3 linked regions of the Homo sapiens genome follow. The protein of the gene in region 3 interacts with the protein of the main gene of each other region in a pairwise test. Each region holds a gene or a part of one and is shown on either strand. Other genes may lie near its edges.

What was found.
Region 1: the proteins of TNNI2 (region 3) and ESRRG interact in binary tests that used the Homo sapiens proteins (3 or more experiments, as listed by UniProt).
Region 2: the proteins of TNNI2 (region 3) and DRC8 interact in binary tests that used the Homo sapiens proteins (3 or more experiments, as listed by UniProt).

Annotation. Positions count from the first base shown.
Region 1 is NC_000001.11:216,674,747-216,678,496, forward strand, and holds part of ESRRG (estrogen-related receptor gamma), read right to left. Parts: intron 2,746-3,750; coding exon 2,330-2,745; intron 1-2,329. UniProt on the Homo sapiens protein: Orphan receptor that acts as a transcription activator in the absence of bound ligand. Binds specifically to an estrogen response element and activates reporter genes controlled by estrogen response elements.
Region 2 is NC_000001.11:245,077,678-245,081,427, reverse strand, and holds part of DRC8 (dynein regulatory complex protein 8), read right to left. Parts: intron 1-3,750. UniProt on the Homo sapiens protein: Component of the nexin-dynein regulatory complex (N-DRC), a key regulator of ciliary/flagellar motility which maintains the alignment and integrity of the distal axoneme and regulates microtubule sliding in motile axonemes.
Region 3 is NC_000011.10:1,837,243-1,840,992, forward strand, and holds the start of TNNI2 (troponin I, fast skeletal muscle), read left to right. Parts: upstream 1-1,738; 5' UTR 1,739-1,791; intron 1,792-2,226; exon of another isoform or gene 2,227-2,285; intron 2,286-2,432; 5' UTR 2,433-2,454; coding exon 2,455-2,462; intron 2,463-2,606; coding exon 2,607-2,613; intron 2,614-2,964; exon of another isoform or gene 2,965-2,981; coding exon of another isoform or gene 2,982-2,996; intron 2,997-3,160; coding exon 3,161-3,202; intron 3,203-3,285; coding exon 3,286-3,414; intron 3,415-3,576; coding exon 3,577-3,666; intron 3,667-3,750. Other genes in the region: SYT8 (synaptotagmin-8), read left to right, coding at 1-189. UniProt on the Homo sapiens protein: Troponin I is the inhibitory subunit of troponin, the thin filament regulatory complex which confers calcium-sensitivity to striated muscle actomyosin ATPase activity.

The sequences.
Region 1 (3,750 bases), on a different chromosome or scaffold from region 3:
CTACAGGTGCATGCCACCATGCTCAACTAATTTGTAAATTTTTTATAGAGACAGGGTTCTCACTTTGTTGCCCAGATTAATCTCTTGAACTTTTGGCCTTAAGGGATCCTCCAGCCTCAGCCTCCCAAAGTGGTGGGATTACAGGCATGAGCCACTGCACCTGACTAAGTAAACATTTTGATTGTGTTCTCATCAGCCACAGATCAAGGAAGTTATGTAACAGACAACAAAAAAGCAAGGGAGAGCCAGTACAAGTAAGGATTGTCACTAAAATATTCAGTGCAACTGATGAAGAAGAGTTGAATTTCCAGATGCTCTTAAAAGGGAAGGTGGGCCGGGCACGGTGGCTCATGCCTGTAATCCCAGCACTTTGGGAGGCTGAGGCGGGTGGATCACGTGAGGTCGGGAGTTCGAGACCAGCCTGGCCAATGTGGTGAAACCTTGTCTCTACTAAAAATACAAAATTAGAGAAGCGTGTTGGTGCATGCCTGTAATCCCAGCTACTTGGGAAGCTGAGGCAAGAGAATCACTTGAACCCAGGAGATGTAGGTTGCAGTGAGCCGAGATCATGCCATTGCCCTCTAGCCTGGGCCACAAGAGTAAAAATCTGCCTCAAAAAGAAAAAAAAAAGGGGGAGAAGGTGGGAGACTGCTCTATGTACACATAAAGGGTTTCAGAATCATGTTTTGTGAAAATATTTAAAAGGATTAGCACTTAACAAACATTACTTCTTTTGTACTTTGAAAACTAGTACGTCACAAAATTATGAAGGCTCCACATAAATTAGTTTCAGTTCTGTCCAGCAAGGGGCCATTAGATGATGATGGTCTATGGTCAGTGGTGAATCAGCAGTAGCATGGTCTAGAGCAGGGGGTCTAAATTTGAATTAGCATCAGGATTACCCAGAGGGTTGGTAAAATGCAGATTGCTAGGCCCACCCTCAGAGATTCTGTTTGAGTTAATACAGGATGGGGCCTGGGAACTTGCATTTCTTACATTTTCCCAGATGATGCTGGTACTGCTGGTACAGCCACTGCACTTTGAGAACTGTTGGCAAATAATACAACACAGTACAGTGCAGTGTTTCTTAACTTTGCCTTTACATTAAGCATCACCTAGGAAGCTTTCAAAAACCCCCCTTTCCCTGGCTGTACCCAAGACCAATTAATTCAGAATTTGGGGACATGAGCCCTGACATCAGCATGTTTTTTTAAGTCTTCCACTGATTCCAATGAGCTGGCAAGCTTGAGAACCACTGATATGTGGGAAGATAGACTTTGTGTCCATAACTGGTTGTTAGGAAGACACATTTTGTAAACCACTGAGCAGAACCATTGGTGTGCTGTGGATCCTCAAAATATATTTTTTTCTTCCCCTATTTTCTTCAAAAGTGAATTACAAGAGACCTAAAAACGTGAAATCTAATTTTTTTGCCAGAATATATATCTATAGCTTTTTCATGAACTGAATTCTAGATCTGTAGATTACCAGTTTAAAAGGGCATAAACAAATTTCAGTCCTATTTTTCTACACTGTATGGCGGAAATAATGTTATTTATAAATCTGAAATCTATGAAGTTTGGGGTATATATCACTTATATATGTTGGAGGTATATTTTATCATTCAATGCCATTTTATTGGTATAATTTGGAAGGTTTTTTTTAATATAAATTCATTTAAAAGTTAGAAAAAGTATATCCAACCATAAGGAAAAAAGAAAGATGAGTAGGTAATTAAATTTGTCTAGAGCAGTGATTCTTAAAATTGGTCCCTGGACCGGCAGCATCATCAGCATTACCTGAAAATTTGTTAAAAATATACAATCTCAGGCAGGCCCCCACCCCAGATCTAATGAATCAGAAATTCTGGAGGTAGGACCCAGGAATCTGCATTTTAACAAGATTTCCAGATGATTTTAATGCACACTCAAGTTTGGAAATCACTGGTCTAAAGTATTTATTATTTCCATGCATCTGTAAGAAGATCCAAAGGGGTCAAAAACACTGTTAGTCCAATGTGCATTTGTACAGTTGCTATATAGACCCACATTGCTCTAATAATAACTATGCTCTTGTAAACTCTACCCAAAGTTTATTATCCTTGCACCATTAAAGCTTAACAGTAAGAGGAAAATTAATAGATATGGAGTATATCTGGGGGGATTTTATTCTATAAATCTTCCACTATCAATTGTAATCTATTTCCATTTTCTACTCAAGAGAGAATTAAAACTATGATACTTGACTTATGAGAATAAGAATAAGGAAAAACAAAAACCCATCATGTGAGGTTGGAAGTGGGGAGAGTATTCCCAGGTCCGACACTAACCTTGAATTGTCCTCTTGAAGAATGCCTTGCAGGCTTCACATGATGCTACCCCATAGTGGTACCCAGAAGCGATGTCACCACACACTAAACACAGTCTCTTGGGCATCGAGTTGAGCATGTATTCACACTTGGTCTGGGGATCTTCAACAATGGTGCTGGAGCAGTCATCATACAGTTTCCTGACAGGCCCACTACCTCCCAGGATAGGAGCAGAAGGGTAGAGAGGTGGCGAGTCAAGTCCGTTCTGATGGCCATTCATGGTTGAACTGTAGCTCCCACTGGCGTCTGAAGAGCCACCAGGGCTGTGGTGGTTGACGCTGTCCGTCAGGGAGGCTGGGCTGGAAGGTTCCGTCTTGATGAAGGACGAACAGCTGGAATCAATGTGTCGATCTTTGTTTGACATTCTGCAGAGAAGCCTGAGATTGAGGAGATACAAAGAGAGACAGAAAGAGGAGAGAGTGTCAAGCACAGAGACCAAAAGAGGTAGAAACAAAAGAGATGGTGAAAAATAGAGAAAGGGAAAGGGAAAGGTAAAAGGAGGAAAAAAACAGAATTCATATGTTAAAGACATTGCTCTTTGAGAGAGTTTCCTAAGGGCTAGGGACTACACATCATTCATTCTCTAGTCAATACTTCTTGTTCTACAAGAAGGTAATCAGCATAAGGGCATGACAGGGTTACAACAAAGGGCCCAGACAGGCCATAAACAAAAGCTCTAAAGAGTCCGATTGCTTTTATTTTACCTTTCTCTTGGAGAACCAGTGTCAATATCTAACTCAACTCTAGATTCTAAATTTATCAATGGAAGAGGTGGTGATTTGCAAAGTCTATACCATTTCTAAAATTGTATTTATCCTCATTCTACCTTTCCTTCCTCATTCTGATGCTGCAATCATTTTATTATGAGCAGAATAAAACTTTTATTTTCAAGACTGAACAGATGATCCTCAGCTCTGTAATTACTGTTTGTCAGCACGCTTCCATAAGCATAACTGTGTCTTATTGATCTGACTAAAACACATAGGGAATATATCCTCAATCACTTTGTTTCTTTATTTAAATTGCTCTATTTCATAGCCATTTGGCAATATAGAAAGACATCAAGTATAAAATTCCAGCCAATATTTAAAGATTATTCCTAGAGCCTGCAAAACTTAGTGACTCATCACCAACATTCATTAATAAATACGTGCATGTGTTTCTTATGTGTGATTTGCCATTATTTAAGAGATGAATCAGTAAAAGCCATTTGAGCCTTCAGTATACCTGTAAGTCCACAAATCTGATATTATATGTATATTATCTGATACTATAAAATCTGATGTTATATTTACATTCAGTAAAGTAGAAATGTAGCATATTTTGTCCTAAAAAATATATTTGTGATGGTCCTTCCCCCACTTCTTTTTGCCATTTAACAT
Region 2 (3,750 bases), on a different chromosome or scaffold from region 3:
GAACTTTGGGAGGCCGAGGTGGGTGGATCACGAGGTCAGCAGATGGAGACCATCCTGGCTAACACGGTGAAACCCTGTCTCTACTAAAACTACAAAAAATTAGCCAGGCATGGTGGTGGGCGCCTGTAGTCCCAGCTACTCAGGAGGCTGAGGCAGGAGAATCACGTGAACCCAGGAGGCAGAGCTTGCAGTGAGCCGAGATCAGGCCACTGCATTCCAGCCTGCGTGACAGAGCGAGACTCCGTCTCAAAAAATATATATATATAGATAAATAAAAAAATAAAAAATAAATAAAATAATAAAATAAAATAAAAATAAAAAAATAAAGAACACTTCTTAGACCAGGAGACCAGGGAAGTCATCCATGAGGAAATAACACTCCAGCTGATTTAGAGAGTATGAGTAGAAGGTAATGAGACAGAGACAGCAGGGGAGAGACAGTCACCTAGAGGAAACTGAATACGCGAAGACTCTCTGCTGACACATTGGCGGCTAGGAGGCTGGAGTACAAGGAGCAGGGAGAAGGCTTCAAGATGAGGCTAGAAAGAGAGACAGGGGCCCGACGGCAGGGCCTTCTTGTCCATGACAGTGATAAGGTTGCTAGCCTGAGAACAATGGGAAATCAGTGACGGTCTCATAGATGCATGTTTTGGAAGAGCACACTGCTTGAGGGTGAGGCAGCTTCTTCAGTAGTCTAAGCAGATATGACAAGGGCTTAGATTGGAGTGGCGGCCATGGAGAGAGAAATGGATGGCTTCAAAAAATATTTAAGAAGTGAAATTGGTAGGACCTGGTCCTGCATTCATTATGAGTAAGGATGGAAAAAACAGAGGATTCAAGGATGACTCCCAAGATTCTGACTTATACCACTGGGATAAGGTGATGCTTTTCCCTGAGATAAGGAATCCTGAGTGAGGGACCAGCTGAGGGGACCAATCACGATCTCAAGGACCAACTACATCTTAAATCATCATAATACGTATTAAGTACCTATATGGTAAATAGAACTTTGTCACACCACCACTAAATTAGAAGACTATACCTGAGAAAGAGAATGTTTGGCACTTAGCACTAGTAAATGAGAACAAAACAGATCCCTGCCCGTGGGTTCGACTTGGATGGAGTGGCTGAACAAAACACCATTGACCTTAACTTTCATGTCGGGCTATCTATAAGGAGCTGTACATTTTCCACTCCCTCTCAAGACTCCTATTAAAAGGCTCAAAGATCCCAATTCAGCAGATGAGCTTTGGACAGATTTATTCTTCGAGCAAAAACAAACAAACGAAAAACTATAGGTTGCTGCTAAGTGGAACACACCATCATCCAAATGACTCCTATTTTTTAATGTTTATACTAGATTCACACCTAGCAAGGTAGAACCCTCAGACTCCACTCTCGGCAGAAAATTCAGCGCATTCAATGACAGAATTGTGTGTTTCAGAATTTCTGAGCCCATCCATTCATGAACAATTGTCTTCAGCTGCCTCTAAGTCCAAGGCGAGCATTTTGCAGGTGAATGTTCATATGGCTCTGACGCACTTGAGCAGCACTCTGCAACTCCCCACCTCAGGAGCCCCGGGCAAATACAATGGCAATCCTACGAGGTTATCTCCGGAGGAGGAATTTTAAAATTAAAATGTTGAGTTGCTATTCTGATTACTCCAGAAATTTGCTCCAGAAGCAAGAGCAATGGTTTTTTTCCTTTCCTCCCACCACCAACAAACCACTGTAGAGCAGGCAGTCTCAACCTTTAAAAGACCAAAACCCCTCTTTAGCTTACATGCACCCTGATCAAGCTACGAACCGTGGTTTGTTTTTCCAAAGGAAGTTCAACTCTATAATTCCGTCTCCATCGTGGAAGAACTCACAAATGACACATAATATACGCCTCATATCGCTTCCCCGGGTTCCCTCACAACTTTCACAAACCCTCAGGGATGTGAACATTATGGTGCCAACTCCGCAGATCTTTCTTGCCTAATAGATGTTTGTGGAACCAAAATTATACGAAAATAAGTTAAAACAAAACAGCCAACTAGTCAGAACAGCAGAGGGGTCATAAGTGTTCTTTGTTATTGTTGTTTTTACAGAGGGACAACGAATAAACAGGACTTGTGGTTAGAAAAGAAGAAGAAAAATGATTATGACCATCTTCAACTTGGGCAGAAATTGTAAAATCTTTCTATGACCCAACACTGTCCTCTAGAGGCCGTATCCAATTTGTTCTTGAGTACAAAAACATGTATAAGCAATGGCATTAAAAACAATAAAATTATACAATAATTCTAAGTACAGAATTCATGGAATGTTTAATATAGACACTATTTTATATTATAAAAGGATTTTATATTTGAATAACCTTTGGATTTTAGAATAGTTTTAGATATACAGAAAAGTTCCAAATATAATACAGAGTTCCCATATACCTCTCTCACTCAGTTTCCTCTATTTTTTTCCAGTCTTACTGAGGTATGATGGACAAATAAAAATTGCATATATTTAAGGTGTGCCACACGATGTTTTGATATACATATACCTTGTGGAATGATTACCACACAGGCTAATTAACTTATCCACCGACTCACTAGTTACCTTTTTTGTATGTGTGGTGAGAATACTTGAGAACTACTCTCTTAGTAAATTTCAAGTATAGAATAATTATTAACCATAGTTACCACACTGTACATCAGAAATTGTTTTTCTTATCACTAAAAGTTTGTACTCTTTGACCAACATTTTCCCATTTCCTCTACCCCCACCCCCGGTTAACTACCCATCTACTCTCTGTTTCCATGAGTTTGACTTTTGAAAATGTAACAGAGATCATGCAGTATTTGTCTTTCTGTGTGTCTGGCTTATTTCACTTAGCATAATGTCCTCCAAGTTCATCCATGTTGTTGCAAATAGCAGGACCTCCTTTTTTAAGGCTGAATAATATTCCATTACATACGTGTGTGTGTGTGTACATATACTATCCACTCATTTGTTTATAGACACGTTGTTTCCATATCTTAGCTACTGTGAATAATGCTGCAATAAACATGGCAATACAGATAGCTCTTAGAGATTCTGATTTTATTTCTTTTGGGACTTATACCCATAAGTGGGATTGTTGGATGATATGGTAATTCTATTTTTAGTTTCTTGAGAAACCCCCGTACTGTTTTCCGTAGTGGCTGTGCCAATTTACACTCCCACCAACAGGTTCCTTTTTCTCCACACCCTCACCAACACTTTTGTCTTTTTGATAGTAGCCATTACAATAGGGGTGAGGTGACATCCCATTGTGGTTTTGGTTTGCATTTCCTTGATGAACAATGATGTTCATATACCTGTTGGACATTTGTACATCACCTTTGAAAAAATGTCAGGTCCTTTTTTCCGTTTTTTTTAATTAGGTCGTTTTTGTTTTTGCAATTGAGTTGTCTGAGTTCCTTATATGTATTGGAATATTAATCCCTTGTCAAATGTATGGTTTGCAACATTTTCTCCCATTCCATAGGTTGCTCCTTGTTTCTTTTGCATGCAGAAACTTTTTAGTTTGATGTAGTGCCACTTGTTTATTTTTGCTTTTGTTGCCTGTGCTCTTAGTATCATATCCAAAAAATCATTGCCCAGACCAATGTCAAAGAGCATTTTCCCTATGTTTTCTTCTAGTTTTATGGCTCCAAGTCTCACATTTAAATCTTTAATCCAGCTTGAGTTGATTTCTGTGTATGGTGTGAGATACGGATCCAATTTCATTCT
Region 3 (3,750 bases):
GAGCCCGTAGGCAAGGTGCACCTGGGTGCCCGGGCCTCGGGGCAGCCCCTGCAGCACTGGGCAGACATGCTGGCCCACGCCCGGCGGCCCATTGCCCAGCGGCACCCCCTGCGGCCAGCCAGGGAGGTGGACCGCATGCTGGCCCTGCAGCCCCGCCTTCGCCTGCGCCTGCCCTTGCCCCACTCCTGAATGCACCACATGCCTCTGTCTCCCCGCTGAGCCCAGGCACTTGCCCAGGCCGCCCTGCAGGACCACTGCAATAAACGCCTTCTCCTGCCACTGTGTGTCCGGCTGGAGCCTGGAGGGGATGCAGAAATAGGGCCCGGGCCCGCTCACCAGGGTCCCCTGACAAGGACGGGGGAGGGGCTCCTCTCCAGACTCAGCCAGGCCCTGAGGCCTCTGACCGGTCCCTGCTTGACCCTCGGGTAGGGGTGGGGAACCTCCCCGGGGAGCACAGATCTCCCCTCTCCGGGCCGCCTGGGAAGACCGGGGAGGTGGGGGCCAGAGAGTCGGGACCACATGGGATGGGGCGGGCTAGAGCCAGCCCTGTAGGGACAGAGTGGGCAATGGTGTCTGGGGGCTGGTGAGCATGGAGGGAGGACCCCCAACACCTCAGAGACCTGTGCTGCAGGGCCTTCCCTGCATGAGCAGCAGGGGGCAGCAGATGCCTTCGGAAGCCGCTGGGGCCTTTAGGGGCTCAGTCCTGGCCGGATGCCCCTCCCAGTCCCCACACATCTGGGCTGCCTTAGCGGCTGGGGCCTCCACGCTGCTGTCTCCTCTGATCCTCCCCACGGGGCTGCGAAGCCGGCAGGGCTGGGGCCAAGAGCCCCCACTCCGAGAGGGTGCCAAGTCACGGTCCAGGGGACCTCTGCAGGGCGGGGGCCTGGGGGCTGGGGGGGCGATGGCCTCGGGCCTGGGTGAAAAGGGCAATGCCAGGCCTGCCCGGGCAGCCAGGAGGGCCCCAAGCCCCCACGGGTGTGAGAGGCTCCCAATGCAGGTGGCGCCATTCTCCTTAGGTTGAAGGATGTGTTCCAAGTCGCCCGGCAAGGGGACTGCAGCAGGGCGTTCTGGGCAGGCGGGAGGGGCCCAGAGGCACGTGCGGCGTGCCCCTCACTCCTGGTCCTGCTCCCCAGGCAGGAAGATAGCATCACGCAGGGAGGGGGCAGCCCCCAGCCCTCGGCCACTGTGGCAGGGCCCAGAAGGCCACATCTGGAGGTCCAGGCCTCACCCCAGAAGCCAGGCTTGCAGAAGGGGGTCAGGCCTGGGCTGAAGTGGGAAACCCATTGCAGGGGCTGAGCCGGGGAGCTGGCCCCGCAGGGAGAGGCTGTGGCTGTCGCCAGCAAGCAGCCAGGTTGGTGGACTGGACGCTGACCTCGGGTGAGATGGGCTGAGGCGAGGTGTGGATACTCGCAGCTACCCCTCAGCTGACCCGAGCTGTGTGCCCGGCTGAGGCCACAGGCAAAGCCAGGGACACTGTCCTCAGGCTCCTTACGAGAACGACAGAGGCATCTCCAGCGCGTCACCGAGCCCTAAATAGAGTAGCCCAGCCACGGCACCCCCCACCAAGACTTCTTGGACTGGGCGGCAGCACGCGGCCAGGCCAGGCGGCCGGACAGGTGGGGAGGTCTCTGTGGCTCTCCACGCCCCCATTGGTCTGAGGAGGACTCTATGCCCTTTCTGAGCAGGGGCCCAGCCTGGGGGAGGCCATTTATACCCCTCCCCCTGGGCCCACCAGCCCAACTCGCCGCTGCCGGCCTGACCTCGCTCCCAGCCCTGCTGCCCAGATTCTAGGTGAGGCCCAGCCCGGCCCGCCGAGGCCGGGGGACAGGGCGTGGCTCGAGCTGGTTTGAGGGAGGACTTCCTGGGGCGGGGGTCTGGGGGCCTGGGGGATGCCACCAGCAGCCCCCTTTGGGGCCTGCACGGGTCCGGGAGTGAGAAGGAGAGGCTTTGGGGAGGCAGCTGTAGCGAGAGGCAGGTATTAGACACTCCCTGACCACCAGGCTTCACCTCTGGGGACCCTGGAAGGAGAGTTTAGGGGTCAAGAAGCCCCAGAACCTGAGCCCCCAGGCCAAACTGAGGAGGGATTTCTTCCATGCACTTAGGCCCAAAGCCAAAGAGAGAGGGTTAAAAATAACAGCGTCACTCAGGCGGCCACCTGCGCTGGCCCATCCCACCCTCCCTCGGGGACAGCTGCAGCTCCTCAGGCTATGCCTGGGACATTTTGGGAACACTTTCTCCTCTTACTTCTCACCCTGGGGAATTCCAAGACATTGTCCTTGAAGGAGGTGAGAGTAGGGGGAGGAGGTGAGAGTAGGGGGTGGGCGGGAGGGGGCTGTCATCAGGAGCCCTGAACCCCTCACCACCTACCTGATGGGCACAGGCATCACGGTGGCAAGGGCCTGGCCAACACCTCTGTCTTCCTCTCCCCACAGGCTCCAAGCTCAGGACCTCAGGATGGGAGAGTAAGTGGTACCCCTGTACCCCCATACAGTGACCCTGCCCACCTCCTGCCCTGTCCACCCCATCACACACTCCGACCCCGCCAGCCATGGCCCTAACCTCTGTCTTCTCTCCCCGTCCTGCCTGCGTCCTCCCTCCCTGGACAGTGAGGAGGTAAGTAGTTGCTGGGGGCTCAAAACATGACGAGGAGGGGGCTCCCCCAACTCAGCATAGGTCATAGGTCACAGCCTCAAGGCCCTAAGGCCCAGAGAAGATGGCCTGGCCCTCCCCGCTGGCAAAAGTGCCCCACCCACCCACCAAGACGCTGCTGAAAGAGAGGAAGTGGCTGCCCCAAGCCTTCTGGGGCAGGGGAAGTGTGGCTGTGGCCTGGTCACAGGGGAATCACTTCTTCTTTCTGATTCCTGCACTTCCCGCCCCCACCTCACCGGCCGACCTGCCCCCAACTGGCCCTCCTCTCCCCCAGCCTCTGGCCTCCCAGCACCATGTGCCACCTGGCAAAGTGTCACACACCACACAGCACCATGTCCCAGTGCAAGGTCTGGGGCCAGGGAGGCCCAGCCTGCCCATCATGGCCTCAGGAGCCCCCAGGCTCTGCTGGTCCCGGAGCCGGAGCCCCTGACCTGGCCAGGGAGCGTGGAAGGGGGTGGGGGTGCTCCAGGCCTGGAGGCCCTGACTCGACCCCCTGTCCCCTGCCCTGCAGAAGCGGAACAGGGCCATCACGGCCCGCAGGCAGCACCTGAAGGTAGGTGTGGGCTCCCGGGGGGGTGGCCCAGGTGGGTCTGCAGGGGAGCTGGCTGCAGCCCCTCACCGCCTGCCCCACCGCAGAGTGTGATGCTGCAGATAGCGGCCACGGAGCTGGAGAAGGAGGAGAGCCGCCGTGAGGCAGAGAAGCAGAACTACCTGGCGGAGCACTGCCCGCCGCTGCATATCCCGGGCTCCATGTCTGAAGTGCAGGTACCAGCCCCTCCCCGGCCACCCCGCCTCCCCAGCAGCAGGCCTGCCTGCTAACTCAGTTTCCCCACTTGTCAAGAGGGCCAGTGGGGTGGTCAGGGCAGGGGCAGGTGACCGTGGCTGCCAAGTGTCAGGACGGCCGCCCGCCCCCACACCCACCCCTAGGAGCTCTGCAAACAGCTGCACGCCAAGATCGATGCGGCTGAAGAGGAGAAGTACGACATGGAGGTGAGGGTGCAGAAGACCAGCAAGGAGGTGAGTGGTGGCGGCGGGCCGGCGGCAGGCGGGTAGGCGGTGGCCCAGCGGGCAGGCGGGGCGGGCCGGGGAGGCCGAGACCAC